Regions from separate parts of the Homo sapiens genome. Here region 1 is linked to region 2. Evidence: fine-mapped QTL for protein levels in blood plasma. A gene starts in region 2. The other region holds a variant in brackets. All regions are shown on one strand. Distances are between the middles of the regions.

Evidence for each region. A credible set is the group of variants that fine-mapping cannot tell apart. PIP is the chance, under the fine-mapping model, that this variant and not a neighbour inherited with it causes the effect. Sun 2018 read protein levels with aptamers (SomaScan).
Region 1: its variant is the best candidate, but not a certain one, in a credible set for the plasma level of the LRIG3 protein (Sun 2018, PIP 0.77).

The regions. Positions count from the first base shown.
Region 1 is chr12:58,871,028-58,886,780 of GRCh38, reverse strand. LRIG3 (leucine rich repeats and immunoglobulin like domains 3) reads left to right here. Exons shown (of 19, transcript NM_153377.5): 10 at 879-950; 11 at 3,190-3,261; 12 at 3,749-3,912; 13 at 5,880-6,200; 14 at 7,676-7,957; 15 at 8,929-9,381; 16 at 10,178-10,336; 17 at 12,208-12,351; 18 at 12,451-12,726; 19 at 13,965-14,626. The coding sequence ends at 14,209. Among named protein-coding and RNA genes, the nearest start is that of LRIG3, 42 kb to the left of the region's middle. The variant A/G (reference allele first, on the strand shown) is at 7,590.
Region 2 is chr12:58,914,001-58,929,753 of GRCh38, reverse strand. LRIG3 (leucine rich repeats and immunoglobulin like domains 3) reads left to right here and starts at 9,250. Exons shown (of 19, transcript NM_153377.5): 1 at 9,250-9,754; 2 at 15,418-15,489; 3 at 15,698-15,753. The coding sequence starts at 9,519. LRIG3-DT (LRIG3 divergent transcript) reads right to left here and starts at 9,050. Exons shown (of 6, transcript NR_183518.1): 1 at 8,964-9,050; 2 at 8,282-8,355. RefSeq lists enhancers at 4,086-4,710, 10,084-10,353 and silencers at 8,366-8,475, 9,094-9,203, 9,624-9,703.

The DNA of each region.
Region 1 (15,753 bases), 43 kb after region 2:
CACTCTTTGATTTAAAAATTTTGTCTTCACTGAAGTCAGCTATACAAGTTGACATCATGAAGAGATGAGAAATCAGTGCTTAATCTGGTTACCACCCTTGATCCTCTCCCCAAATGCCTGCTGTTGCGCAAGATGTATATTATTAACTTTTTCTTCCTTAGGTGAAAGTGTTTTATTCAACATTTTAGTATGTGTAATTTACTTTAATATCCTCATAATAATTTTCATCTATGTTGAGGGCTTACACTTTTGGAATTATCATTGCGTAAAAGTTAGTGCAGGCACTTCCACATCTTGAAATCCTCAATGTTGTACTGTCCCCGTAGGAATTTTTTTAATGAAGTAATCTAGTAGCCACTGATAATGCTGTGGTAGGTTACAAGCAAAACAGGATGAAAACATCTTATAATTAACCATAAAATGGTCTTGCAGATGGTCAAATTACATGTGTTAAGCCAGCAGTATTCAAATTCAGCTCCCTATAGTCCCAAACTCCTATGGATGGAAGGTATCCACAGAGAAGGAGAGGAAGGAGAAAACGTTCACTATTATCTGCTTTGTTAGTGTTCTGAGACAGTTTACTTGAAATAAAGTCTCTACCTATTCCTAAAAGGACTCTGAAAAACAGTGATTTAACTTAATCAGCAGAGTGACTTACTGAATACCTATTTTTGTTGGGCTCTTTGTTGAATGCTTCAAAAACCATGTTCGACTACATTATTGAAATAGATGGCATGGACACATTTTTACAGGATATATTGTTTAATTGAAGAAAATGGAATTGCTCACACATAATTTAAAAAGCAGTTCTGTTTATGAGAGTTCCACCCCAAAATGGCTTTTTAAATTAAGTGCTCCAATGTAATTTTTTTCCCCAGGATACTCCAAGGAAATCGGATCCGTTCTATTACTAAAAAAGCCTTCACTGGTTTGGATGCATTGGAGCATCTGTGAGTAGCTAGAATTTAGTTACCCTAAAAGAGAATCTCTAAGATGGTTTTTACTTATGTGTCATGAAAGATAAAACAAACTGGAATGTAATTTTGTTGGCATCCTTCCGGTTCCATAAAATATATTTAAACATCTCCCTATCTTTCTATTTCTTTCTCTGTCTACCTACTTACCTACCTACCTATATAGAAGTATACAGGTGTATGCTTTCCTTTGTATTTAAGAACAAAAGCTATATCTCCTTAATGGGTTTTTAATTGTTTTTCTCAAACAGTGATTATTTAATTAAAAAAAAAACAAACTACTAGGTGTAGTTCATCCACTATATATCAGGCATTGTACCACATATTCACATATATTCTCATTTAATTCTTAGTCAGAATACAATTCAATAGCTATTATTATCTTTATTGTTAAGCGGAGGTTCTAAGAGTTTATTGATTCCACTGGACAGTTAAAGGAGATGACTTGGCTTTTAAAGAACAAAGACAATGTTCCACAATCCTTAAGAGTGACATAGGAGAGTTTTAGCACTACTTTGAGAATTGTTGGTCTCTTATTGTTGTTTAATTATGAAACATACAACCCCCCCTTACCATTGTTCTCTTTTTTGTTGTTTTCTTTTGTTTCGTCTTGACCCACCAGTTAGTAGCTGTCAGAAGCAGGACGCAACCCAGAGCTGCCCCGACTTGCACAGTGTCCCTGCATCACACTAGCTCTTGCCTGTACAATCTCTGCCGCTACTCCCAGTAGCTCCTAGTAACTCCTGGCACACATTTCTGAAATGTCATTTAGGGGCTCAGGAATTTTCAGCCACTAAGAGAGGAAAGCTAGCTAACATTGATAGGAATCAAAACTTGCATGTTTTAACTAAGGGAACCAACCAGCTGCTTATAACCATGGATGTATGTTTTACGCTTGTACAGTAAAAGTACAAAGTAATGTATAATATCGACTCTGACTGTTAAGGAATGCTTGTATCCAGAAGTTTTAATATGTATTAACCAGGACAAAAGAAGTTACAATTTAAAATACATATTGGGTTCTCCTATGTGTGCTGTGTATTGAGAGTGAAGATTTAGCTGTTATCTGTAAACCACTGTGTTGTCACCTTCTGACTGCACCAGTTCCTCTGAGGGAGACTTGGATCGTGAGCCACCCAGACAGTGAGTGCGGCAGTTCAAATTATAGTAGAATGATTCTGCAAAGCTGAGTTTTGGAAGGGCAGACCAACATTGCAGTATTTATTGAAACCGATTATTTTGAAAAGAAAACTAGCCAAAAGGGTTTGTCATTTGGCCCATTCCGTTTCTGGGAACGTGGAATTAGTGGATCAGTGGAGTATTAATCTCTGCTTCAGTTTTCTTAAATCTTCCTTGATTGCCCCAGCCTCTTCGTCTAGCCATGTCTGGTCCCTTCTTTCTTTGTCTTCTCTTCCCACTTGTCTCACTCAATATTCCCTTTGTATACTGTGACCCCTGTAAAGAAAAACAGAGTGGTAATCATTGTGGTGAATACTTTAATGCAGAGTGCTTATAAGTCTCTGTATAAAGAGAATTAATCCAGAATATGTGCTCATTTTATGAATTTCCTGCCTGAAGTATTGGTTTTAACAAGTATATCTTGTCTGAACATCTTACTGCGTTTATGTTAGTGAGCTGTGGGTGACAGAATTAGGTTAATGGTTAAAAGCACAGGTTTTGGAATTGAAAATAATTGTTTCAACCCTTACCTTCCCCTTTCGTGCTGAGCTAAGTAGTAATACCATCATATTTTGGGTTGTTGTAGGAATAAATGCAGTAACACTTGTAAATCACTTAACTGAGTGCATATCTTCAAAAATACTGTGTAAATGTTTTATAAAAGCATAATTATTTTTATTTTTTATTTGTATATTTTATTTGTATATTTAGAAGTTTCCAATAGTTGCTAATTTGAATAAAGAGTAATAGAATGAAATAATAGAACAGCATGGGCCCTAATGAGTCAAATAATCTTTAAGTGATGACAGAAAGTGAATCTTTTTCACTAAAACAAAACCTATCTGTGATACAAATGCCCTGGGTCTTCAGCACAAGCTTTGCAGTGGATTCTTCTGGGGCTGCCCCAGTCATGTATTTGACACATAGAGGGAGTATTTGTTTGGCAAATGGGGTGGGCAGTGGGGGCCCAAACTTTGTCCAAAAGCACGAAATGATGGTAGTTTGCTCTGATGCATTTGATTTGGTGATTTTTCAGAGACCTGAGTGACAACGCAATCATGTCTTTACAAGGCAATGCATTTTCACAAATGAAGAAACTGCAACAATTGTAAGCTTTTCTTTTCCTTCTAGGAGTCTGAAAGTATAGAGGGGAAAACTGTCATATGGTGTGGCATCCTGGATTATGTATCTATAAAAAGTGCCTGGCACATTCTTAACATTACTTAATTTTTATACTAGGCAACAGAAAAGGAGTTTATTTGTTCTTTTTGTTGAAATGAGTTTTTCTTTCTATTTTAAATTCGCAACTTTGTGGGACCAAATATAGTACAGTCACCCAATATAGTAGTAATTTTTTCAGTTGTAAGGAACTTTTGATAAATCAACACTTCTGTCTCAGTAGGACAGTAAGAACAACAGAAAATCATGCTAGATACATTTCTTGTATTTTAAAATGGACTGTGGGATACTTATTCCATGGGATGTGTGTATTCAGTTTCCAAATTCATTGCTTTGTTAATATTTACTTGGGTTTAGTTTACTTGTAGAAATCTGCATTTCATACAGAACAAATTGAATGTAATTACTCTCCTCAGGCATTTAAATACATCAAGCCTTTTGTGCGATTGCCAGCTAAAATGGCTCCCACAGTGGGTGGCGGAAAACAACTTTCAGAGCTTTGTAAATGCCAGTTGTGCCCATCCTCAGCTGCTAAAAGGAAGAAGCATTTTTGCTGTTAGCCCAGATGGCTTTGTGTGTGGTGAGTATAAGTATTGCCCTTGCCTTTTATTTATTCTTCTTTTTTCCCCCTCCCATTTATCCAAATAATGGTTTTGAATAGATTTATGATCTCTTTATAAAGCTTTTATTTCTGCTGAGGTAGAGGAAAATGGGTCTATAGTTTGCTGATTATTTTAATTTCACAGATGGGAAAGAGAGTTTTCTAAAATTGCTTCATCTTTGTTTTGGCATCAGGATGGTGCGGTGGAATGAGAATGAAATTGGATCTTGGGAGAATGGAAGGGTAATCTCAGCCCTTCTACTTAACTTAAATTCCCTAAATATTAGTCTCTGCATCCATGAAATGGGGACTCTCCTTTCTTCTCTTCCCAACTCTGAGGCTTGTTGGGAGGTTTACATGAAAGAGAAAATTATTAATGATTTATGGGGTGCTAAAAAATTAACTATTGGTCGGTAAAACATTTACAAGTAATAGGAAATGTGAATTTATTATAAATAATTTTAAGGTCCATTGTTTTAGCATCCAAGAATCTCAGCATTAGAAATCTAGTTACCTGAACTTTACATAGCTAGTTAGTAGCAGATCTGGATTTAAAAGAAAAGTTTTCATCTCTGGTGTAACTTTCTGTCTATTACATGATGCTGCCATTTACTATTAGCTGCCATGGAGACCTCTGTAAAAATAAATATGTTTTATAAACCAATAAATCAGAATTTGCTTTTATTTAAGCATGGGTGTTAAAATATTAAGAACCTTCTTTTGCATTGGCATTTAAAAATTTACTTAAAACTGCTTTGTCCACGATATATATTTTTAGGTTGCAGCATTAAGCAGTGCCAGTAGTTTCTGGAAATAAAACCTCTGATGTAGCTTTTGGAACTGAATAAGCTTTTGGCATTCATCTGTAAGGGCCTGAACTGCTCCTTTCCCATGGTCCTTGTTTCATAGTTTTTTAGTCCCAAGATCTGATCCCCCTATTACGTTGAAACACATGTATAGTATCCATCGTTTTTTTCACTTCCTTGTGAATCTGAACATCGATTTATTAGATGAGAATTTCAGAATAGTACAGAAAACACCTCGATTACAATATGCAGACATTGAAAAATAGCAGCCCTGGAGTTATCAAAGCATCCCCTATAACCCATTCAATACACATAAAAAGTTGTCTTTTCAAATAGTAGCACCCAAATGGTACGCTTTGGTAGATCTCAGATGTTTCCTTCTGGGTTTAGATCATGGCTGAGAAACTGAAGTTCAAAAAGGTAACTTTTCCAAAATGTAACAGAGAACTAAAAATAACTGTTAGAATGAAAGAGTTGCTTAGCTCTAATTATAATGTAGCTTTGACAGGGCAGCGCGGCGGCACGATTGGCCGCTCAAAGCTCCAGGCTGAAGCCAGTGTCTTACAGTTTGTTTTACAGATGCTTTTTCTTTTGCTATCAGCTTTTTTTTTTTTTTTTTTTGCCTCTACCTAAATTACTGTTTTTAAATAGTGGTTCTGTTTTGGTAAATGAAGTGTTAATGGCTGTCTTTGTTGATTAATCATGATTGATGTTTGATTTCCTAATTTTGCTGCTCATTATCTGGGGAGAACATGGGAACAATTGCAGTTTCTGATAGTAGCATTCAAAAATGATCCCTGAGCCTGGAAGTTTTTAAACTGCTTTCTTCTTCTACTTATAGAAAGCATAAGGGATCAGGAATAAAGTGTGGGTTTTCCGATAGCTCCAAAATAACAGTCTTTTCTCAGGTAATAGTGATTGATAAATAGATCTGCATCTGTATTCGAGATGAATGAGTTACTTTATAAATACTCTCCCAGTGTATCATTTCAACATGGGGACGGCTAGTCCATCTGGAAAACATACACAAAGGGTAAAACCTAAGCCACTGTTTTTGCATTTCTTGGTGTTCAAATTTGAGTAGTATTTGGACTCTTGAGCCTTAACATTGTTTTGTCTCCTCCTCTCCATTTTTAACAGATGATTTTCCCAAACCCCAGATCACGGTTCAGCCAGAAACACAGTCGGCAATAAAAGGTTCCAATTTGAGTTTCATCTGCTCAGCTGCCAGCAGCAGTGATTCCCCAATGACTTTTGCTTGGAAAAAAGACAATGAACTACTGCATGATGCTGAAATGGAAAATTATGCACACCTCCGGGCCCAAGGTGGCGAGGTGATGGAGTATACCACCATCCTTCGGCTGCGCGAGGTGGAATTTGCCAGTGAGGGGAAATATCAGTGTGTCATCTCCAATCACTTTGGTTCATCCTACTCTGTCAAAGCCAAGCTTACAGTAAATAGTATGTGATCTGACTTTTCCTTTAGCATTTAAAGATACCTTTTAGAAATAGAAAGCACCTGTTTTTCTCTCTTAATCTTAACCCTGTCTTTTCTTCTCACAGTTCCCCACCTGACTCTTCCTTTCCCTACCTTTCATTCCACAAAATTAAGATTCTTGGTTATTTGTATCTAAACCTGCAATTATGTTGAAGACGACACCGTACTCAGTGTGGTGAGTAACACAGAGATGAACCAGACATGTTTTTGCTCTTTTTTTTTTCTTTTTCTTTTTTTTTTTTTTGAGACGGAATCTTGCACTGTCACCCAAGGCTGGATGACATCCTGGTTGCAATCTTGGCTCACTGCAACCTCCACCTCCCAGATTCAAGCAATTCTCCTACCTCAGCCTCCTGAGTAGCTGGGATTACAGGCGTGCGCCACCATGCCCGGCCAATTTTTTGTATTTTTAGTAGAGACGGGGTTTCACTATATTGGTCAGGCTGGTCTCGAACGCCTGACCTTGTGATCTGCCCACCTTGGCCTCACAAAGTGCTGGCTGGGATTACAGGTGTGAGCCACCGTGCCCAGCAATGTTTTCCTCTTTGAGAGTTTACAGTGTAGTATACTGATCTGGAAGGCTGCAAAGCATCATGCTGGATGCACACTGCCTTTAATTCAGAGATCTGTGTGTGAATCCTGCCACTCCTGCGTGATTTTCAGCAGGTTGCTTCACTTCTCCGCCTCCAGTTCCACATCTTTCAATTAGGGATAATAGGACCTGCCCCCTAGAGGCATTATGCTCATTTAGTGAAATAATATGTGTAAAGGATGTAGCAAAATGGCTACAAGGTAGTGCTCAGTAAATGCACTGTTAGCCACTGTTAACAGAAGTCTATTCTTGTTTGCTTTGTGTGGTAGGTATACAGTTTTACAGTAGGATCCTTGCCACTTTATCATTTAACTATCTGTATCTGCCGTGGTAGAAGATTTTGAATATGATTCATTAATGCATTCACTCAGCAAATGATGGCTGTGGCCTGGCACATAGAACAGTTTTGAGTTTAAATTGTAGGGCAAAACATGTATCTTAAAAGTCACAGAATGTTAGAGCTACCAGGAGAGACTTTAAAAAAAAAATAGATGAAGTGAGTGGTCAGGGTACAAAGAGATTAATTGATACACCCAAGATCTCACAGTTGATTGTTGAGGAAACTAAAAAGTGGCAGAAAATAGCAGGAAGACCTTCATTCTGAGAATCAGATGACCTCTGTTTTATCCTGACTTCATTGTTTCTGTATCTGTAACCTTGAGCAAGCCTTTTAATCTTTCCATCTCAACTTTAGTTTCCTTGACTTGAAATTGGAATTAACCCCTGCCCAATCTATGTCAGGGACAATCTGTAAGTATCA[A/G]ACAAACAAACAAATAATAAAAAGGAATGCAAGTGAACCTGTAAGACTCCACTGTGCTAATGCCTATATTGTTTCTCTGATTTCAGTGCTTCCCTCATTCACCAAGACCCCCATGGATCTCACCATCCGAGCTGGGGCCATGGCACGCTTGGAGTGTGCTGCTGTGGGGCACCCAGCCCCCCAGATAGCCTGGCAGAAGGATGGGGGCACAGACTTCCCAGCTGCACGGGAGAGACGCATGCATGTGATGCCCGAGGATGACGTGTTCTTTATCGTGGATGTGAAGATAGAGGACATTGGGGTATACAGCTGCACAGCTCAGAACAGTGCAGGAAGTATTTCAGCAAATGCAACTCTGACTGTCCTAGGTGGGTGAATTTGTTAAGATTCTGTAGTATAAATCAGTCTTGAAGATACTAGCTCATCCAAGGTCCCTAAGTATCAGAAGTTGTGAGAGTAAGAGATGAAGATGTATGGGGCATTGCCTTTTCCTAGAAAGTATTAATGCAAATGGCCTCTTGAACACTTTGAAGTCAGGGATTGCATGACATCCTCAAGTCTGGCCACTGAGGTGAATCCCTGCCCCCTCCATCCTGAAGAGAGGGGCCGAGGAAAAGTTGGGATGCTTTCCCTTTTATGGGGGATCACCCTCCTCTAATTTCCCCACTGTGCTGTCTATATCAGTAGTCTTAACACCATAAAGAACATTAAAAAAAAATGTGGGAACAAATTGGGAAGGCCTTACTCTCTTTTCTCAGCCTACCATACCTCTCCGGAAGTCAGAGTTTTTTTTTCATCTTTTACCTAAACAAATGCTTTTTAAAAATGTAAACACAATTATTATTCACGTATCTTTGAAAGAGCTAATTAACGTAACCTATTAAGATACTAAATAATAAAAGTAAATTATTGTCAGAGTTTTAATATAGGCCCAGGCATCCGGCCCTAAAAAGTTTCACTTAAAAAACTTAAGCATTCTGATTTTTTTTATTTATCAACATACCCTTGTGCTTGAAATTATTTTTGTACTTTCTATTTTTAAAAAGCTTTTGTTTCCCACTCTCCCCCCCTACTACCAGCTTCCCGACTTTTGCAAAAGTGAGGGAAGCTGAGATTTTAAAAATAGTAGATATTATCCTTAACTGGTGTTATGAGTAAATGACAGCAGAATAGTGAAATACTGAATGTTGTATATGTTTAGGCTCTTAGAAAAGTGTGTCCAGTAAGTTGTGGGAGAATAAAATTTTAGGTTACAATTTGAATAAGTTTAAATGCTACATTTTATGATATGGAAACTAAATTTTATTTGGGAAATTAAAAGCATAACTTGTTATTTCAGAAACACCATCATTTTTGCGGCCACTGTTGGACCGAACTGTAACCAAGGGAGAAACAGCCGTCCTACAGTGCATTGCTGGAGGAAGCCCTCCCCCTAAACTGAACTGGACCAAAGATGATAGCCCATTGGTGGTAACCGAGAGGCACTTTTTTGCAGCAGGCAATCAGCTTCTGATTATTGTGGACTCAGATGTCAGTGATGCTGGGAAATACACATGTGAGATGTCTAACACCCTTGGCACTGAGAGAGGAAACGTGCGCCTCAGTGTGATCCCCACTCCAACCTGCGACTCCCCTCAGATGACAGCCCCATCGTTAGACGATGACGGATGGGCCACTGTGGGTGTCGTGATCATAGCCGTGGTTTGCTGTGTGGTGGGCACGTCACTCGTGTGGGTGGTCATCATATACCACACAAGGCGGAGGAATGAAGATTGCAGCATTACCAACACAGGTGTGTAAACAGAAGCTTGGCACAGGTCACCGGAGTCATGTGTATTTGTGGTTCTGCAAATACTTCTAGAACGTGTGTCTTGCAGTCTGAGTTCATCTCAGAAGGGTGACTCATTTGTTTCAAGCTGCAGAAATATGATTCGCTAAAAAACTCCAGCCCCAAATAAAGCTGATGTTTAAAGATTAATACTTTTTGTTAAAATGACATCAGGGTATCCTGTGGCTGTGAGATAAAATCCAAGTCACTGACTAAAATATTTCTAACTCCTTCATAAGATAGTGATGGAGAACCAGGAACAGCCCTTTAATGATAAGGTTTACTCTCTGCAGTAGTTGTATGTCTTGTTGTCTGTGCGTATGTGCATGTACTTAGGTTGGATTTTATTAGTGGAAGAGGAGCTGTGACTTGATTAGTATGTGCAAAGTCAGATATTGATTAGTAATATTAAGAAGGGAATATGGCAATAATCAAGCATAATTCGAAAGCTTAGATACTGTCCCATGAAAATTCTTAGGCCTTCAGCCTTTTAAAAAATCTGTTTAAACATTTGTTGTTTTGAAATTTGGGAGGTGCATCCAATGGGTGATAAAACAGAAAGTCAGCTTATACGTCCCAGAGCAGCAAAGCCCTAATTTGCCGTTCCAGAATACTGTACAATCGAGATGGTTTTGCCAGAGTAGATCTCCCCTAATTTGATGTATACAGAAGCCAAAATAGTCTATGCCATTCACCCGGGATGCCTGTGGGACAATTAACGATCATCCTTGGTTAATAAAATGCTGCTGTTTTATTACAGATGAGACCAACTTGCCAGCAGATATTCCTAGTTATTTGTCATCTCAGGGAACGTTAGCTGACAGGCAGGATGGGTACGTGTCTTCAGAAAGTGGAAGCCACCACCAGTTTGTCACATCTTCAGGTGCTGGATTTTTCTTACCACAACATGACAGTAGTGGTAAGTGTTTAAAATGAATGTGGGCTGTAATTGTTTTGAAGTCATATGGTGGAAGGCTCAGATATGATATTCATTTTCACAAGACATTGATAACACTGACATTTAGGACCTGGCCCAAGATCACTAGCAAGGTTGAAATTGTATAGTTCTATACCGTTCTCTTAAATACTAGGAAAGAAATAAATCTTTGTTTCTAACAATAAAAAAAGACTAGTAGGTTTAGAAAAATGTAATTATTCCATGTGTAAAGGATATTTGTGTATCCTTTACATTATAAATGTTCTTTGGCCCTTAAATGATATTAACTGGTTACATGAATGGGCTTAAAAGTCTAATGGTTTACATTATTTTCTTTAAGAAGTCTATTTTTTATTTATTTATTTTTATTTATTTGAGACGAAGTCTCGCTCTGTCACCCAGGCTGGAGTGCAGTGGCGTGGTCTCAGCTCACTGCAGCCTCCACCTGCTGGGTTCAAACGATTCTCCTGCCTCAGCCTCCCAAGTAACTGGGACTACAGCCACATGCCACCACGCCTGGCTAATGCTTTCTTTTGTTTTTGTATTTTTAGTAGAGATGGGGTTTTGCCATGTTGGCCAGGCTTGTCTTGAACTCCTGACCTCAGGTGATCTGCCTGCCTCAGCCTCCCAAAGTGCTGGGATTACAGGCGTGAGCCACCGCACCCAGCCTCTTTGAGAAGTCTAATTCTGACCCTTGCTTTCAATGCTGCATAGTTTTGAGAATAATAATGGAGACAGCATAATACAAGAGCACAGGTTTGGTACAAGACCTACTACTTACTGCATGTACTGTGGGGCACATACAATACTTTCTGGTGAGGTACTTGTGCAAATGAAATGAAGATGGAAAACTACATGGCGCTAGGCACATATTAAGGGCTCAGCAAGTGGAAGCCATCGATGTTATTCTAAAATATATGACCAACTTTTCCCATAAGTATTTATTATACGCTCTGTGCCAGACATTGTAGTTGGGAGAGAAGTATATGTTTTCAATTTCACAGTTTCGTCAGAGGTGGATAAACTAAAAGTGCTTGGCAAGCCAGAAATAAAGAGCGTAGAGTTACAGGATCTGAGCATAGAAGTGAGTATTCTGGTTAGACCCGTTTAGAGGCAGAGTGGAGACCCAAGCTCATTAAAGCATAATGGGGTTAACTGAAAAGACACTTAAGGAAAACCTAAAGGGACAGAACTGGGGCATAATAATGCCAGGCTGCCTAGATGCTGAGGCTGGAGATGAGGCTGCTCCCAGAGTAGCTCTGGGCCACCAGCATTACTGTGTCACGTTCTGCATATTTGCTTTTCTCTCAGCCCACCACCTCTTGCTGCCCAGTTTCTGCTTCCCAGACACATGCGTCATCGTGACATCTCTAACCCTGATGATATCATTTACTCTTCACCTGCTGTGTCCAGCAGTAAATGGCGTATATTTCTGTGTTGTTTGGTTCAGATACTCATGAGATGATATGTTTAGCTGAGCTTATCTTTGAGATGGGCATTAAGAGGTCATTGGCCAAGTGCCAATCCTGGTTCTGGTCATCTGGGACCTTTTGTAAGAAGGGGACAGTGCTGATGGTATGTGGTTTAGACCATGGCTGCTTTGGCTGCAGGATCTGCACATATCAGTTTCCCGTAGAAACCAAGTGAGCAATAAGGCCACCACACCTAGCACAATGGCTAATTAAGTCCTCTAATAAATTTTTTAAAACCCTACTGTAAATTTTTGCAATTTTTTTGTCTATATGATGTTCTAGTCAAACTTTCATCTATAAATATGGAAGATGCCAAAACTGGGGAGAATGTTGAATGGCACTTGAATAATTGGATCATTGACTAAGATTTTTGTTTCAAAGGGACCTGCCATATTGACAATAGCAGTGAAGCTGATGTGGAAGCTGCCACAGATCTGTTCCTTTGTCCGTTTTTGGGATCCACAGGCCCTATGTATTTGAAGGGAAATGTGTATGGCTCAGATCCTTTTGAAACATATCATACAGGTAGGTGGTTTTCTTGCTTGAGTACAGTTCTGTTTCTTAGAGAGACTTCTAGATGTGCTAACTGTAATCTCCTTCTGTTACTGCCCCCATATTAAAAAGGTTGCAGTCCTGACCCAAGAACAGTTTTAATGGACCACTATGAGCCCAGTTACATAAAGAAAAAGGAGTGCTACCCATGTTCTCATCCTTCAGAAGAATCCTGCGAACGGAGCTTCAGTAATATATCGTGGCCTTCACATGTGAGGAAGCTACTTAACACTAGTTACTCTCACAATGAAGGACCTGGAATGAAAAATCTGTGTCTAAACAAGTCCTCTTTAGATTTTAGTGCAAATCCAGAGCCAGCGTCGGTTGCCTCGAGTAATTCTTTCATGGGTAAGTTTATTAAGTTATCAGGTACCTCGTCTGAGGATCCATACTCCAAGTTGTGTGTGAGAGAGCAATGACAGCCTTGAATGTCAAACTGGTAAAAAATGGTTTCTTGAATGAGGCTGCCATGACATCCGACTAGTTAGTGTAAATGCCTCCAAAAGCAAAGTCAGAGGTGGGATTTTACTTGATGATGTGTTTAATCTATAACTAAGCCTCAGGAGCTTTCTGGGTAGCACTGTGTGTGGCATCTACTCCAAGACAAGGGTTTGGGGAGGACTTAGGAGCTCAGCTTGTCAGCCATGTGGAAAAAGTGGTTTTGGGCTCCCACGGCCTTTGGGGTGGAGTTGTGTGCTCTGCATGATTGTGGTTTGGTATGTCTGGTGGCTTCCAACTGAACCCGCAGTCGAAGGGTGGAAAACAACATCCTACCTAGCAACAACTGCTAGTCTGACAAGCTGGACTACCTTTGGCCAAGAAAACCAGCCTTAAGGTCCAAGTCGGTGGTGTTAGATGCTGGCTGGCACTGAGATTAGGTAGTGAATTTTTTCGTCTGATGCATGGGGATAATAGGATGGAAGAGCTGAGGTCATCTTTTCACTGAACAGAGAGATGGAAAAATCAGCCACAACTTGCCATGTTGACAATAAAATTTAAAAAAGGAGAATTTTCAAATATTTTACCCAACTTCTACGAAATGTTATGTTTTATCACAGTGTAATTATTTATATTCCTTTTTTGGAAAAAATTAAAATAATATGCTTTGTATAACTGAGGCAAGAATTTGATTCAATTGAGTAATATTTGGCTACAATTAATGAAGAAAGGGCAGGACACAGGTTTATTTTGAAAGAAAATTTCTTTATTTAGCCTCAGTTAACTTGGATGTTACCATCCAACACACCCGTCACCAAAATTGGGCTCTCAGCTAGGATGTGGGGAAACTTATATTGGGGAACTTTATTGCATGACCATTAACATTACTACAGGTCATGAGAAATGATAAAGAATAGATGCATTTGTTCAGTGGATGTAAATATGAGGGAAGGCAAATGTCTTTTGCTCCATTCTAGAAGTGATCTGGCTGTAAGACAGATGTACATGTATGTGAGTGCCATAATGTGGACTTGTAGAAAACACTTACTCATATTCATGGGGTAAGATGTTCCTTCATTTGCAATGGGTTTTATTGATTCACATGCTAGCAAAGGGACCCATGTGCTCAAGGTGTTTCTTTCTTTCAGGTACCTTTGGAAAAGCTCTCAGGAGACCTCACCTAGATGCCTATTCAAGCTTTGGACAGCCATCAGATTGTCAGCCAAGAGCCTTTTATTTGAAAGCTCATTCTTCCCCAGACTTGGACTCTGGGTCAGAGGAAGATGGGAAAGAAAGGACAGATTTTCAGGAAGAAAATCACATTTGTACCTTTAAACAGACTTTAGAAAACTACAGGACTCCAAATTTTCAGTCTTATGACTTGGACACATAGACTGAATGAGACCAAAGGAAAAGCTTAACATACTACCTCAAGTGAACTTTTATTTAAAAGAGAGAGAATCTTATGTTTTTTAAATGGAGTTATGAATTTTAAAAGGATAAAAATGCTTTATTTATACAGATGAACCAAAATTACAAAAAGTTATGAAAATTTTTATACTGGGAATGATGCTCATATAAGAATACCTTTTTAAACTATTTTTTAACTTTGTTTTATGCAAAAAAGTATCTTACGTAAATTAATGATATAAATCATGATTATTTTATGTATTTTTATAATGCCAGATTTCTTTTTATGGAAAATGAGTTACTAAAGCATTTTAAATAATACCTGCCTTGTACCATTTTTTAAATAGAAGTTACTTCATTATATTTTGCACATTATATTTAATAAAATGTGTCAATTTGATGCCAAGCCCCATTTATACAATAACAATTTTTATTATTTTTAGCACAATTTAGGCTTAATTAGTTCACATTATCATGTCTCAAACGGATGGGAATTATATTTAGCCCATTAAAGTATGAACAAAAATGACCGTTTTTTCTACCTCCCAGGATTGTTGTAATACAGATTGAAATCAGATTGTGCATATGAAAGCACAATTGTAAACGAGAAGGAGCTACAGAGATTTAAGGTACATTATTTCTAAATCTACGAACAAAAAAAGATTTGTTGTTATAATCTGGTGTAATATAGTACAACTACCATAAATCACTGCTCAATTCATGTTTCTTTAATTATAATAATGGTTTACGTGGTCTAATGCCTTATGCTTATCCAAGTAGTTTCACTTTTGCCGTCCCTTTTCTTACAGCAAGCGAGTGGTTTATTGCATATGTCTATAGCTAAAATGGCTCTAGCAGAAGTGGACTTTCATGCACTGTTCCAGGTTGTAATGAGATGCTGCTAGAATTGTTTTCTGTTTTTATTGATTTTCTGCTGGAAGAGCAGTTTGTATATAAATGGTACTTCTAAGCTATTTTTGAACAATTACCAAAATATTTTCTTTGATCATCAAGGTTTGGTTAAAAACTAAGTATAAAATATCTTACTTAAGCACATAAAACTAAAACATTTGTTTTAAAACAGTATTCATTGAAAAATGTAATTACATGGCAGGCATATATACACAGAAAAATGAATATAACCATATTTTCTTTTTTTTTTTAATTATACTTTAAGTTTTAGGGTACATGTGTACAACGTGCAGGTTAGTTACATATGTATACATGTGCCATGTTGGTGTGCTGAACCCAGTAACTCATCATTTAACATTAGGTATATCTCCAAATGCTATCCCTCCCTGCTCCCCTCACCCCGCAACAGGCCCCAGTGTGTGATGTTCCCCTTCCTGTGTCCATGTGTTCTCATTGGAATATAACCATATTTTCAAAACTAGATGACACAATTCAAAGTAACTGAAAGGAAAAAAAATTCAGTTTAATAATTCAGATTATAAAACTTTTTTCTTCTGTAGTAAATTCTAGCTCATATGTGTAGTTTAAAGAAAAACCCTCTTGCTCAAGATAAAT
Region 2 (15,753 bases):
ATACTATCCTCACCTTGAGACATTTGTCATGAACACTATAGAAAAAGATCAAAAGTTATGGTAAAAACATAGTATATTTTCTTGTTTACTTCACAAGCTTATCAATTTAAATGAATAATCACAAACTTCAAGAAAATGTCCATCAACTGTTAATGCTATAGAATCCTTTTCGAACAGACCTACCGACATTTAATGCAATTAATTATTCATGTTTCCGTTAACTTCCTCATATTGTATTTTCATTAGGTGAAATAAATGTTTTATCCAAATTCCTACTGTTAAGATGCCTTGGCTTTAAAAAATATTACCATTACATTAAATAATTTAATATTCTAGGACTAACTGCCCAAATAAGCTTTACTTTTAAGAACATATTTTTTATATATCTGAAAAATTCGATACACTTTTATATGAATTACTTTTGTGCATAGACTGATAAAATCATAATTAGAGCTCTCAATATTGGATGATAATAAAAATTCAAAAATGAATTCACAGCTTTTAACACAAGGAGTATATGTCTCTAGTACTTTCTCTTATCAGAAAATATAGATTTTATCAGAATTCTAGTAGGTGTATTGTGTTACTCATAGCAGAAAGTATTTATCATGTTACTGAATGGCTTAAGTATAAATTAAGACAATGAATATAACTTAAATGAATATAATGACTTTTAGAATTTGTGTTGTGTCTGAATTTGAGGGAAGATTCTAACTCAAGCCTCACTGAGATGACTCAGGTAGTCTCCTAAAGAACGGAAGCCTCTGAGATGTTCCTTTGGCAGTGGACTTGAAGCTCAGCCTCAAAACATAAAAAGCTGAATGGGAAACTAGAATTTAAACTCAGCCAATTTGGGACACTTTTGTTTAAAATTTTTTCCTTATACTGTTCAGAAGTTAGAAAAGCATAAAAATTAGCATTTGCCCATAAACAAAAAGAAAAATTCTGTTACCACATGTGAAGTATCTCAACAGTAAAAACAATCTCTAGCATTAATATTTCATTTCCCTGGACTTGTGGGACCACATGCACCCCATTCATGGTTCCCCTAATTAGGTGCAGCCCTAGACAAAACTGTGAAGAAAGAAAAGCCTGTTTCCCTTTCTGCATCCTTTTCCTCTTCTGATTACCAACCACCTAGGTTCTCCTGTGAGCCAAACTTAGTTTTATAGAACACTGACCATAAAATGTCAATGATACCTTATGTAACACTCCTGGAGGTGAGGGTATATTGATATTGCCAAAGAGGACTTCAGAAAGACAGTAATGTCTGAACCCCATAGTTCATCTCTAATGGTTAGATTCGGAGCACTACTCTGATATCTGGGCAGGACATCAACCTTCACAAATCGGACCCTAAAGTGATTGATTCATACATCTGCATAAAATGAATCTTTTTTGGATCAATGAGGAAAGGAGGAAAAAAAGGAGGGGGAGTGATTGCAACTGACCACCTTCAAAAAACCAGGCAAGGTCCATACTTTCCTTATTGTTTTCAATCTACTGGAAACTCCTTTTTAGCACTAAGGAAGACAGTGAAAATCCTTGCTTCTTCTGACTCTAGTGGAAAGCAGGGTAGCATAGTGGTCAAGGGGTACACTGTGAGGTCAGGTTGACTGAGTTTGTATCCCAACTCCATCACAGGTAAATTCCTTAGCATCTCCATCCCTCTGTTTCCTTATCTGGTAATGTGGGGATAATAACTTAGAAGGTGATTATAAAAAATAAATTAGTTAATAATATCAAATATCTAGAGAATAGTAAGAGTAATAAGAGCTTGATAAATGTCAAATATCATTTGTATAGCTGAAAGGGCCTCATACCTCAATGTCTCCATATTCATTTCTATAAGGCACATAAGCAGAAAGACATCCCTGATACACATAAGAGTGTGAGATAGAAGAACAGTAGTGTTCATGCAAAAGTGTTTAAAATAATTGTAACTATTAGGCCGGGTGCCGTGTCTTATGCCTGTAATCCTAGCACTTTGGGAGGCCAAGGCGAGCAGATCACTTGAGGTCAGGAGTTCAAAACCAGCTTGGCCATCATGGTGAAACCCCGTCTCTACTAAAAATACAAAAAATTAGCTGGCCATGGTGGTGCGTGTCTGTAATCCCTGCTACTCAGGAGGTTGAGGCAGGAGAATCACTTGAACCTGGGAGGCGGAGGTTGCAGTGAGCAGAGATCATGCCACCGCACTCCAGTCTGGGTGACAGAGCGAGACTCCATCTCAAAAAAAGAAAAAAAAAGAATTGTAATTATTTAATTTGCAAAGAGATAGCTAAGGAATATTGCTGGTGACAGCTTCGATTTTGCCCAGGATAAAAATAGATCAAACATATTCAAATGACAAGAGAGCAGAAGTTTATTTATGTGGGCTGTAAAGATGAATGTTCTGACTGAAAAAAAAGTTTTTCAAGTCTGAAATAACTGCTGTGGGAGCAGAAGAGGTTTCCTGCTGTAGTCACAGTTGTGCCTGGGGCAAGCAGATGAGTGAGGTGTTCTTGCAGAGCATCTTCATGCTCCACGTCAGTATTTCAGCGGAAATCTTTCTGCATGGATGTATACACATAGCAGAAGTGTGGAAAGCTTTGGGCTAAATTTTAAGATGTTATCAAGGAAGTATCCGTACTGTCCGTACTGTGACAGGTGCACAGCATCTTGCTGAAACTGACCCCATTCCACCAAAATTATCCCTCACTGTCTATTTGAAAATACATATGTGGAATCATATTGTAACTCGATAGCAATCCTTATATTTAGGGACAGAAGCAGAGCTTTCAGTGCAGGGAACTTGATTCTGACAATGTTTATGACAAAGTCACCTTAATAATTTGATAGTCAGGCCTGGGTAAATGTAATATGTGTAAGAGGATGAAACTATAAATAAAAGCAATAAATAACTCATGTATAAGTGCTCTCATGGTTCTGAAATGCAAATTAATTCTTAGAATAGTGCATAGGCCAACTGTTCATCCAAGAAGTGGGAGAAAAACATTCTGCAAAAAGTTCCCAGGAGGGATATATAAGTCTTTTTAGTAAATATGCCTAATGATTCTTTCTGAACTCATGGCATAAATCATAACAAATTGAGTTATGCAGTAACTTCTTGAGATGGCATAATAAAATTCCTACTAAAAAAAAAAATCTCAGAATATGTACAGTATGCTGTCATAACAGACAGATTTAGAGCCTTGTATTAAGGTTAAAAGTGGTTTAAGTTTTGTTTTCATTTTAAAATTAAATATTATTTTCCTCATTCTATTTTATATTAATAGTTGAAGGTTTACTTAATCCCAACATTCCATTGGAAATTAATCTCAGCAGTGGGATGTTTCCGTAGCGCACTCACTTTGTCTCCCTGAATAATGAAAACAGCAATTTGGAAGTAATAGGAACTAGAATCTATATGGGACGTTATAGTTACAAAATATTGTACTACGGTACAGCAAGGTATCATTTTTCACTGGATTTTACAGGTGAGAAAAATGGAGCATAGAAGTGTGAGGAAATCCAAAGTTACAGCATTTCACCTTCTGACCACCCCGCTTCTTCTCTGACAATTTTTCAAGCATTTAGATTTCTGTATTCCTGACAGGGTAGGCTATTTGACATGAGTTGAGATTCTCAGTGGAGTTTTAGGATTGCAGCTGGCTACAGAAAAAAAAAAGAGAAGAAGAAGAAGCAAGGATTGGAAAAAGAAGAGAAAGTGTTCTGAGGTTCTCAAAGGAATGGGAAAACTGGAGACCACTCAAAGGCTCTACTGCTGGGAAGGACACTCTGCCTTAAGGAGGGTCTGGTGGAAGCTGAAGGCGCCCTCCCCCTTTTCCCATTCCCTACCCCATCTCCAGACTCCCAGCAGCTCCAAAATGATTTCCAGGATATCCAGTGTTGTCTACAGTATGAGTTTTCCTCAGAGCTCACATTATTCCCAGACGGTGACATGGGAAATGAGTAAAATACAAAATAGCATATATTAATTTGCAGTTGAGATAACACTGTTTGTTTTCAATTCAAATAATATCACACAGTTGGCCAACTTGAGAAAAACAGATGGGTGGCTATCTTTATTTTTCTAAATATTTTCTGAAAGTTAAGACATGTTCATAGCAGGGGTTGTGTAAAGTAATCTGCTCTCTAAGTGAAGCTGTGCATTTTGTGTGTTTGTATGTGTGTGTGAGAGAGAGAGAGAGAAAGGAAGGTTATCTATTTCTTCTAAAATGCCTTAATGAATGGGAAAAGATATGGTTAAGTTACAAAGTACAGCAACATTTGCTTTTGGCATCATTATCTGGGGATTTTTGTGCTTTTCTTCCTCCTTTGCCTTATCTCTTTTCCCTTTTCACAGCTCCCACTTACACAAACTGTGTCATTCATTGTAATGATAAAGCAAGTACTGAGTGTTTAGCTTTCATTCTTGTCCTTGGATGTTAAAACTGACAGTTTAGCACCTCTATTACTTTTTATCGGTGAGTCACTGGCCTTGCCAGCACTCAAGATAAGAAAGTCTCACACTTGCCAGAGAAAGAAAAAAGACCAGGAAAACTAAAAAGAGCACTGGGATTGGGTTATGCTCACCACAAAATGGGTGGTAGGAGACCCTTTTGAAAATGGATGAAACTTGCCATTCACTGGGACACAGCTGGAAACGAGAAACTGTCTGGTGTGATCTCAGCAATTTCCAATGGAAAGCTAACTTCCAACTACCTGGTTAACCAGTGTAAACCTCTGAAGGAGTAGAGAAATCCAACATCTTATCTCATTTTATTTCAAATGTTAAAAGACCTCTGGTCAAAATGAATTTGACTTTCTCATACTAAATTCTTATTTGTAAGCCATTATCCACAAAAACTGAGATTCAACATTTGATAGCACTGTGTCCTCTGTGTGTGTGTGTGTGTGTGTGTGTGTGTGTGTATACAAGAAAATGACATCATAAGAGTATCAGAGAATTCAGTGATACATTAATCCTGTTTCTAGGTCACTGTTATTCCCTGATACATTTTGGGAGATTAAACAGAATTTTATGTACCTCTTCTTCCTCTATTACAACTATCTTTGCTGTCACTCTGCCTTCACGCCTATTTTCTATATACTGTAAAGGAATCAGAACAGAGCTGTAAGGGACCTCAAAAGATATTAGTTCTCATCTGCCCAGATGGATACCCAGTGGAAGTTCTCTCTGCCCTGTGGTTCATGAAAGGTTTGAGAAGCCTGTGAAAATATTACATTGATGTAAAGTTTCAGCCAGGCAGGTGGCTCATGCCTGTAATTCCAGCACTTTGGGATGCCGAAACGAGTAGATGGATTTCTTGAGCCCAGGAGTTCGAGACCAGACTGGACAACATGGTTAAACGCCATCTCTCTCTCTCTATATATATATATATCTATATATACATATATTAAAAATACAAAAATTAGACTGGTATGGTGGCATGCGCCTGTGGTCCCAGCTATTCAGGAGGCTGAAGTGGGAGGATCGCCTGAGCCCAGGAAGTTGAGGCTGCAGTGAGCCAATATCCCGCCACTGCATTTCAGCCTAGGTGACAGAGTGAGACCCTGTCTCAAAAAAATAAAAATAAAAAAATTAAGTTTTCATGTAGGACTAGTTCCCCTTTGTATTGACCACATGGTTAAGCACATATCGAAATGTAGAACAGTGATTTTTAATGTGCGCTGTATTCTTTCCATGTCATCCTCTTTTACTCTCTCAATGATCCCATTAAGTTCTGAGTAAGCTTAAGCCACACCCATAAAACGTCCTCTGTTGATTAATTCCCAAATACAATTAAAGTGGAACAAGATCTTACTTGCAAAGTAACCTTTCCAAAAAAATCTCCTAGATATTTGTAATCTCCTCCTCCCATATTTACAACTGTCTTATCTTCATCTAATTGGATAGCATTGTTTTATCGATTACCTTTAAAGAATCTTTCCCAACCTTCAAATTCATTATCATAGAAATAAAGGTATTTTCTTGTTGCACTTGTATTTGGTTTACACAATATTGTGTAACATTAATAATATATATAAACAAGTCTGTAACTACTGTGGATCAGCACCTGACAGGTAGGAGCAAATATGCAAAGGCTGTTCTAAGGAGAGGCTGGTAGTTTCTAGATTTCAGCTGGTCATAGGCATCAGTCAGGTTGTACAGAGAGAACAGAGTGACTGCTAATCCAGTAACTGATAAATGGAAGCCAGCCAGATAAGATCGTTTTTTATTGTATTCCCAATTTACAGACTGAGAAACTGGGGTACTGAAAACTTAGGTAATTTAACTTCACAATAGCTGGTAAAACCCTTAAAGGCGATAAGGAATACATGGTTATCGGAAAATTCTGTAGTATTACCTGGGGGTTAGAGTGAAAATGGTCTATTACATTCCAGTCAATACTGATGTGCTGGAAGTATACTGGAGGTATAGATAGTTAAACCTGACTCAGGGAAGTGTTTGCCAAAGAAGGAATGCCATCAACCAGGCAGAAGAAGGAGCAGAGAATGATTTGGACAGAAGAACCATTTGCAAGAGGGCTGAAGGCAAGAGTACAGCTGGGAAGAGAATTGCAAGTAGCTCCTAGAGTAGGAGAAAAATGATGAAAGACAATGAATTAAAGAGATAAATAGAGGCTCAATGCCAAAACAAACAAACAAAACTGTATAAGTCACTCTAAAGAATTTGAACCTTATTCTCAAGACACTAGGAACCCAAGAAAAGAACTGGTCAGTTGAGTCACAGGCTCAGATTTGACCTTCAGAGATATCACTTAACTGCCCTGAGGAGAAAGCAGTGGAATGCCTGATAGGTGGCAAGAGCTGCTGGTGGTCTGGATTTGCATAATTTCTACAGAGAGAAGATACATTTAGGAGCTAGCTTTAACATGACTTGCTAATTGATTGACTCTGGTGGTGGTGGTGGTGGTGGTGAGAATGAAGTAATGTTAAGGTGACTTTCAGGTTTCTGGGGCATTCATCTGGATGGAGGGAAGTATCCACTCTTTAAGACAGTGAATTCAGGAGGAAACAAGTCAGTTTCAAGGGTGGTGAAATTTAATTCTAGACATGTTACATTTGAACATCCAATTTTTAATGACCTGTGGGTAATTGCACATATGGATTTCGAGTTTAGGAAAAAGACCTGGGCTGAAATATGGATGTTGTATATGTCAGCATGTAAATGTAAATGGAATTCATGGAAGAAGATGAAATTATACAAGGAGAATAAAGAATGAGAAAAGGAAATGAGCCAAAACTCCCCAAAATGGTAGCACATTTATATCCCTGTCATATGTCTCATGTCTCAAGAGCAAGCCTCCATACTGATGTTACCTTGCTTATGCATAATGGCATGTGTACAATGGAATCTTTCTTCTTTTTAAAAACTTCAATGAATTATACCTAATTTTCCTTGTATGAAATAGATGGGGGGCCGGGTGTGGTGGCTCACGCCTGTAATCCCAACACTTTGGGAGGCCAAAGCGGGCGGATAGCCTGAGGTCAGGAGTTAGAAACCAGCTTGGCCAACATGGTGAAACCCTGTCTCCACTAAAAATACAAAAAAATTAGCCGGGTGTGGTGGTGGGCACCTGTAATCCCAGCTACTTGGGAGGCTGAAGCAGGATAATTGCTTGAACCCAGGGGGTAGAGGTTGCAGCGAGCCGACATCGCATCACTGCACCCCACTCCAGCCTGGGTGACAGACTGGAGTGTCTCCATCTCAAAAATAAAAAAATAAAAAAAATAAATAAAAATAGATGGGGGATACTGAGCTGGAAAATCCTTACTATGACTGTAGTGTGTTTTGTCTACTCCCAAGCAGACAAAATCATAAATTCAAAACCAAGGTGCCATCATTATAGATATTTTCTAATTATAATTATACATCATCCAAAAAGGTAGTAGCGTTGTTGTTAATGGTAGCTGGAAATAAGAAAATGGGATACCATATCTAAAATAGGGTGTGTTAACTTCAAAGTGAGTCTTTTCCTTCCCCCGTAAGTGGGAGTGATTTGCTACAGTGAAAAATCAATGGGCCTTAGAGTCAGGGTTAAAGTCTCAACTCCACAAGCTATCTCCACTCCTCAATCATGAGCAGTTTACGCAACTCCAAGGACAGACAAGCTTGGGCAGACAGCATGCAATAAACAATGTATAGAAGTGAAAACTTACTTTAAGCTTCCAGGGTTTGTTTTTTGGTTTGTTCATGTTTTCTGTCTTGCTTTTATTTTTATTTTTTTTGCAACAAACACATTAGTTACGTTCTCTAGGTCTATTTCCTTACCCAGAGGAGGAAGGCCCCTTAGCACATGATCTCTGCGGTCTCCATTAGTTTCAACATCTTGTGGCGCTGATCACCTGTAAGTTAAGGAACAAACTTCACTGGGAAGTCCTGTAGCCTGAATCCAGCCCCAAACATCCACTCCCCCAGCTGAGGAGGCCGGGAGGTACTTTTACCCTGGTAGCATTCTCAATCAACATGTGTCATTACTCAAAGCGCAAGTGGACCAAGGTGCATATACTAATTTTTTCCTCCAAGGTCTTAGTTTTCATTTTACTTTGAAATGTCACTGTGACTACTTTTATTATTACTATTACCAGGAATCTATGATTGCCATCGAGGTCTATTAGAAGGTCATCTCCCATCCCCCACCCCGCCCAGCTTTATCCAGTGCACGAAGGCTGGCTATTTGTAATTCAATATACACTTTCCAAAACCACGAGTTTTACGTTTTATTATTGTTTTTACTTTTGAAGCCGATGTATGGGGGAACACCCACCAGCATTAACGTTGAAAGAGCTGTTTTCATTGAAACCACTCTTTCATCTGTGGATGGTAGGATAATTTATCAGTGTCTTTAATTTGGAATTGAAAAGTTTCCTGAAAACACTGCTAATTAAACTTTACTTCCCTGAAGTTCTCCTAAATACCTCCAACTCCGAGAACTAGCCCAGTATTTGCTCACTTCCTTTTGCCTTTCAACTCCATTTGATATATGTTTCCCACGACGTAGTGGAGACTTCTGGCTGGAGAGGCTGGAAAATATAACTCTGAATTTCCTACAATCTCAGCTCCACTTTCTCCCGCGCGTAGGCCCCCGGCTGGAGCGGTGTTATTGTCACGTGGCCACGGGGACGCCCGCAGCCGAGTCGGCCAATGGGCGCGCGTCGGCCTCTACCCGCCCGCCTTGCTACTCCGCCGCGCGGGGACTTGGCGCAGTGCCGCGGGGTGGAGGCGAAAAAGTTTCTTTTGCAGACAAGAAGGGGCTTCGGCGAGCCGACGCTGCTCAAGCTGCAACTCTGTTGCAGTTGGCAGTTCTTTTCGGTTTCCCTCCTGCTGTTTGGGGGCATGAAAGGGCTTCGCCGCCGGGAGTAAAAGAAGGAATTGACCGGGCAGCGCGAGGGAGGAGCGCGCACGCGACCGCGAGGGCGGGCGTGCACCCTCGGCTGGAAGTTTGTGCCGGGCCCCGAGCGCGCGCCGGCTGGGAGCTTCGGGTAGAGACCTAGGCCGCTGGACCGCGATGAGCGCGCCGAGCCTCCGTGCGCGCGCCGCGGGGTTGGGGCTGCTGCTGTGCGCGGTGCTGGGGCGCGCTGGCCGGTCAGACAGCGGCGGTCGCGGGGAACTCGGGCAGCCCTCTGGGGTAGCCGCCGAGCGCCCATGCCCCACTACCTGCCGCTGCCTCGGGGACCTGCTGGACTGCAGTCGTAAGCGGCTAGCGCGTCTTCCCGAGCCACTCCCGTCCTGGGTCGCTCGGCTGTAAGTATTCTTCCCGCGGGGGGAGGGGGCCCGGGCCGCTGGAGATTCGAGAAAACAGGAGCCGGCGGGGAATGGGGTTCGGCGTGCAGTCCCCTTTTTGCCGTATAGCTCCTTCTGGCCCAGGCCGCGATCGGCGCTCCGTGGGCGTGGAAAAAGAACTGTCCGGGCCTCAGTTTCCCTCCCACGTGCTTTGCGGGCGGCGCAGGTGGGCTCTTGGCGCGTCCTAACTGGCTGCAGGTAGACCAGGGTTGGGGGCCAGTAACGACGCCAGAGATTGGGGATGAAGTCCTGCGCCCTAAGCTAGCCAAGGGGTTCAAATGCTTGCTCCTGCCAGGCCCAGGGGAGATAAGCGGCAACCTGCACACATCAGGAGTTTGCAGTTCTCGCTGAGTTATGAGTCTGGTTCAGTTTTAGTTTCTAGCTGCGTCAGACTCCTTTTCCTGTTCCCACCCAGTAACTGAAGTCAGGCTTTTCATTTGGGAAGCCCCCTCAACAGAATTCGGTCATTCTCCAAGTTATGGTGGACGTACTTCTGTTGTTCTCCCTCTGCTTGCTTTTTCACATTAGCAGACCGTAAGTTCCCACTCCTCAACCAGATTGTAAAGACTGGTCGGTAGCTATGGAAAGGGCGGAACTCGATTATCCAGAATCAAGGGCGTGATTTCTGTAGCTCCTCAGAACGCCCAGACGGTTTAGGGGAGAGCGCAGGGAGCTCTTATGCAAGTTTTTGGATTTTTAGCTGCGAAGTCTGAAAACCTGAAATCACTGCCAACTGCGTGAAGAACAAGGAAGAAAATGTAATTTAGTTGGAAATGCTGATCTTTTCCAAATGTCATCTCTTTTCTTCCTCAGTCCCAGTTTTAAAATTGGAGTGCTGTAAAAAGTAAACAATCAAAATTTGTATTTTTTAAAGTAGTTGTTCTGTTTAAAATAAAAGTGCACTTCATACGTAATCTTATATTTTGACTTAGCAGAATTGCAATGAAAATTTTAAGTTTTTAAAACAATTCTAGTGAACTATTCCAATGCCCTAATGTGGTAGGAGGTTTGGTCAGGTGTTTAAGAATTTATATTTTAAAATTATTGTGCTAATCTAAATAACTTTTGTGAATGTAGAATTGTTGGCCATCAGAAAGTATATTCCTTGTGTTTTTAATAAGCCTTAGTTTAATAAAGTAGAATTAGTATTGGATTGATATTTAATTTCTTGGGACGTTTTATTTAGTAGTTTTTATTGCAATTGGAAGAGGAGATAAGGTCTTTAACCGAAAGCAGGGAGACTTTCAATTAGTTGTGGCTAATTCTGTTAAATTGCCTCTTGTGGAGGTCATGCTGCCTTATTCATGAGTGAATGGCTCTATTGACAACATATGGAACTGAACATGTAAATGACTGGAGGTGAACACTTAGGAATAATAGAGGGATGAGAAAGAGAAAATGAATACAGTGCTTCCTGGAGTGTATTTAGATATGCTTAGATTATTCACGGCATCTAACTTGTATTCGATAGTTTTTCAATGTCAAGTTGTCTATTGTGATCATGCTAGTGTGCAGTACTTTTTTTCTTTTTTCCTGGATTTAGATGTTTAGAAAAAAAATCTGTGTTGCCCTTGATCAGAAGTTGAGTTGAACCAAAAGGGGTTCGATACCTATTTAAACATTGTCTTAAAAGTAGCTGACCTAATTAGGATTTTGTTTTGCAGATAATTTGGTGGCACACTAAAAACAAATTAGAGTTTATTTGGTTAGCACAGTCTTTAATTACATTTCCACCAGCAGTAAATTGTCTCAATACTAGCCCACATTCCTTAAATGTATGTGAAAATAAGTTCCACTTGTATAAATAAGCACTCAGTCTGTTGTCAGGAACCCTGCTGTGATCACTTATTGGACAGCTCTGTCATTCCTGTACTTCTGTGACTTTTAACCATCTTTGTAGGTGTCACCAAACCATGTGGTCTGGATTCTTTATTGTAAATATTTCTTTTGTTTGTACCTAAAGCTCTAGAGGTCTCCTCTTTCCACTTTTGAAAGGAGCAGAAAAACACGTGGAATTGAGTTTTACTTTCTCTGTTATTTGGTATTTTAGAATAGGTGGTCTAAAAAGCTACTAAAGTTTTTCGTAATTAGAAAAATCGTCTTAAGGAGATGATTTCCGAGTTCAGATATAAATAGAAAAATGCATGTTTTTGTTCCCCATATCTTACCTTCCCTTTCCTTGGGTAATCAAAATAGTAGGAGTTTGTCTTTGGACTGGCTTATGAAAGCACTTTTCAGAAAAAGTTCAGTGTCTATCTTTTGTTTCATTTGTTGAATTTGCAAGTTTAAGAAAAATTACGTGTGTATGTATTTTTTCCACTTTATTTGGTTGTGATTTATTACTATAGGAGTCCCATGTGTGAAAAGTCGAATAGTTTGAGCTGTAAAATAATAATACTGTATCAGTACTCCTTTTAGAAAATAACCTCTAATGCTTTAATGAAAGTGGCTCTTAAAGAGTAACTATGTGAGCGAGACTTTGTCTAAAAAAAAACAACCCAGTAACTACGCCAAGCCTTGCTCACAACTGCCATTAAAGGCAAGCTAGAGTTTATGTCAAGAGTTTGCGCTTAAACAGTTCTCAACCTAAAGAGGAATGCTTGTTAGAATGTTATTTAGCCCAGAGACGGAAAAGTTGCTAAATTGCCAATGAGAACTTCCAGTATTATTAAATTCTCACTGGCATTTCAGAATTATTTGTCTTATGTAGAAATGTTTGAGTTCTCAACAGGACCCAGGCGAAAGTCCCAAAGGTAGTTTCTGCTGGTGTGACTTCTTTAGTGTTGACCTGTTATAAATCTTATGGTCCGGACCACAGTTGGGGGTGGGGTGGGGGTAATAGTCCTTATGGTTTTCACAGCTGTTTTTCTGTATTTTCCAGACTAAAACTTGAATATAGCAGGCTGATTTATGAGTCACTTTGGATCAGTGTCTTAAAACAGCTATAGCCTGGCTTTTTGTTTTTCAGCTTTCCAGATTTGTGCTGAATTAGCAGCTCTGCAGGCCCCAGTGGGATTGCTTAAGAAGCTGTGCTGGATTTGCATTTAAAATTTGACTTGGAAGTCAGATTTCCAAATGCTAAAAGGAAGAAAATGACAGCTTGAACCAAATGTTGCAAATTGATTATTTTCATATATATTTATTCATTTGCTAATATTCAGGAAGAGAGAAGTCTGTCTAACCATATAGAAAGAGTTTGACTTTCAAGTGTTGGCCAGCTGAGCTCTGGGTACAGTTAACACTTCCGTACCTTACTACCTTTCCCATTCATTAACCCCACTACAAAAAGTTTTTGTAAAAGTTTTGTGGGGAAGATGCTATTAATGGAACTCTAAACATGAAGAATCTGCCTTTCTTATTGAATGTTTTATGATCTGGGTTTAAGAAAACATCGACGTTGTACAACTTGAATCTGTTTTTAATGGTCTAGCCATAAAAACAATGTAAGGAAGATTTAGGAAAATGTGACATCCCTTAACTGGAAAGTAATCATTTCTCAAATGTAAACTATATTAAATCTAAATTTAGGTACACTAAAAGTTTCATAGCTGTAAGTATTTAGCAGTAAATGTCATTTAAGGGGTGTTTTTTTTCCTCCTACATATAATGTAGTTTTAATAGTACACAAAACTCAAGAATGGAAATGTGTTGCAATAACTGAAATATTCAAAGTTTCAAGCTCCTGCTTCTGGATCAGAAATGAGGGGTCCCCAGCATGTGCACTGGTCTCTGAAGGGAGTTTCTTATTTTTTACAGGTCTTTTGTAGGAGGAATCTTATCCCATTACTAGTTGAAAAAAGTTAAGCACTCCGTCTCATTTCTCTCACAGGATTGCCCTGTGAAATAATCCTTAAAATGAAGTTAATCCTCAGTTTTAGTGTTTTTTTATTTTTAATTAAAAAGAGAATCACCTGTGTTAAATATTAATGCCAGATTGCTTCCCCTTTCTTTTTAAGACCTGAAACAATAGGGGATGCAGTTTTACGCTGGCTCAATGCTCTTTAGTTAAGTGGGTCCAAATGAGACTTTCTGTTGACTCAGGCTACCTCCCAGGTGAAAGACTCTTTTCCTTGGTTGTTTTTTAAACCATGTGGGAAATCTGTGACTGTCTGGGGTGCTAAAAGCACACAGGTTTTGTTTGAATCCTAACGTGAGTTGTTGGGCTCACGGTTTCCTTGATGAACTCCAGATGGACTTGAGCTGGGCTGCAAGGGAAAGTGTCTGGCTCCAGCCAGCGTGGTGAGCATGCACAGCAGTGGTTGTAATTGCAGGATTTTTATAGTTTAAAGACTGTGCCAGATTTTTTTCATGTTATAACTCTACCAGAACAAATCTACTCATGTCTGTCACTGTCTGGTAGGTCTTTGGGCAAACATACTTCAAATAAAACCTTGCAGATTTTTTTTTTTAGGTGAAAAAGAGAATCCAGGTTTATTCTCAAAACAGAAACTCAAAGACTGAAAGGAACTCTGATTTCTAATTGTTAACTAAACACTGAGTAACACTGTGCTTCTCTGGAGGTGATTTCTCTTTATTTATTTTTTAGGAGGGGTGTACTTATGCATATAACAAATAATTCATGCTTTTCTCCAATCAACTTTGGTTATTTAAAAAACTCCGTTTTAAACACCAAAAAAATTAGTATGGGTTGGATAACCCTTTCAGTGGGAAGCTTCAAGCCATACTATTTGTTATCCCGGTTTTTCATCACTCTGGAACCATTTCATTTTTATTACACTATTTTGAAGGCACATAGTCAATGTGTTAACACATATGGGGAATATAACCAAGAATATTTGCTGGAATTTGTTCCATATTTTGAATCTTAAATGAGATGACTTTCTAGCCTAGAGTATTGTATATGTATGAGTTTGTTATTGTTTTTAATAGTAATGATGTTCTATGGAAATTGTTACTAAGTTAAATTGAGTTATTGAGTAAGAAGCACATTTATTTTAATGATTGAAATCTGTTCACAAGTTTTTGTGCAATCTGCTGAACTTTGTTAGATGGCGATGTGGTTTAAATTTTATATTATCAGATATTGATATTTGGGGAATTTAAGAAAGCAGAGGGTTCAGATTGTTTTCTACCCTCTCAACACTCACACACAAAATAATGCTTTAAATGATTTGGTGCTTTAACGCAGAGAAACAAATATGTATGCAAAGCAATTTCTGTTTTCCTTGACTGCAATAAGGACATTGATGCTTAAATGTATGACAATAAAAAGATTTCTATAGAGGCTTTAGTTTCAGCAACCTGCCTAATTAGCTCCTTTTCTTAAACCATGATGTCATCATATCAGGTTAGGAGTGGGGAGATGGGAGGGTGAAGCAGACCTGCCAGTTCACAAAAGATCTGTTCACCACGTGCCAAAAAAACATCTCTTAAAACATTTGTGGGCTTAAAGTATTTGAATCTGCCAGTCTCCCTAAACTAATTTTGTCCTTGGAGCTTGTATTTTTGAGTTTGGCATTTTGGTTGCCATCTAGTTTGTGGACAGAATAGACCAATTATTTCTCCTGCTCTCACTGGTGTTCATAGAGATACTTCATAAGCCCAGTTAGCACTATTAGTGATTTTTAGAAATGACTTATAATTTTATTTTTGTTTTCTTATAGGGACTTAAGTCACAACAGATTATCTTTCATCAAGGCAAGTTCCATGAGCCACCTTCAAAGCCTTCGAGAAGTGTGAGTCTTCGTTATTTTGTTTTTAAGGTTTGAGTAAAATACGTTACCCCTTATACTATTTAACCGTAAGGAATACTTGGATTATAGTGAGTTATTCAAAACTTTTAACTTGGGTGGTATCTTGAAATAATATGTAAAGTTTTCACCTCTGTGAATTACAGATTACCTAATCAGCTTTTCTTTTTCTTTTTTTTTTTGGCATTTGTAGGAAACTGAACAACAATGAATTGGAGACCATTCCAAATCTGGGACCAGTCTCGGCAA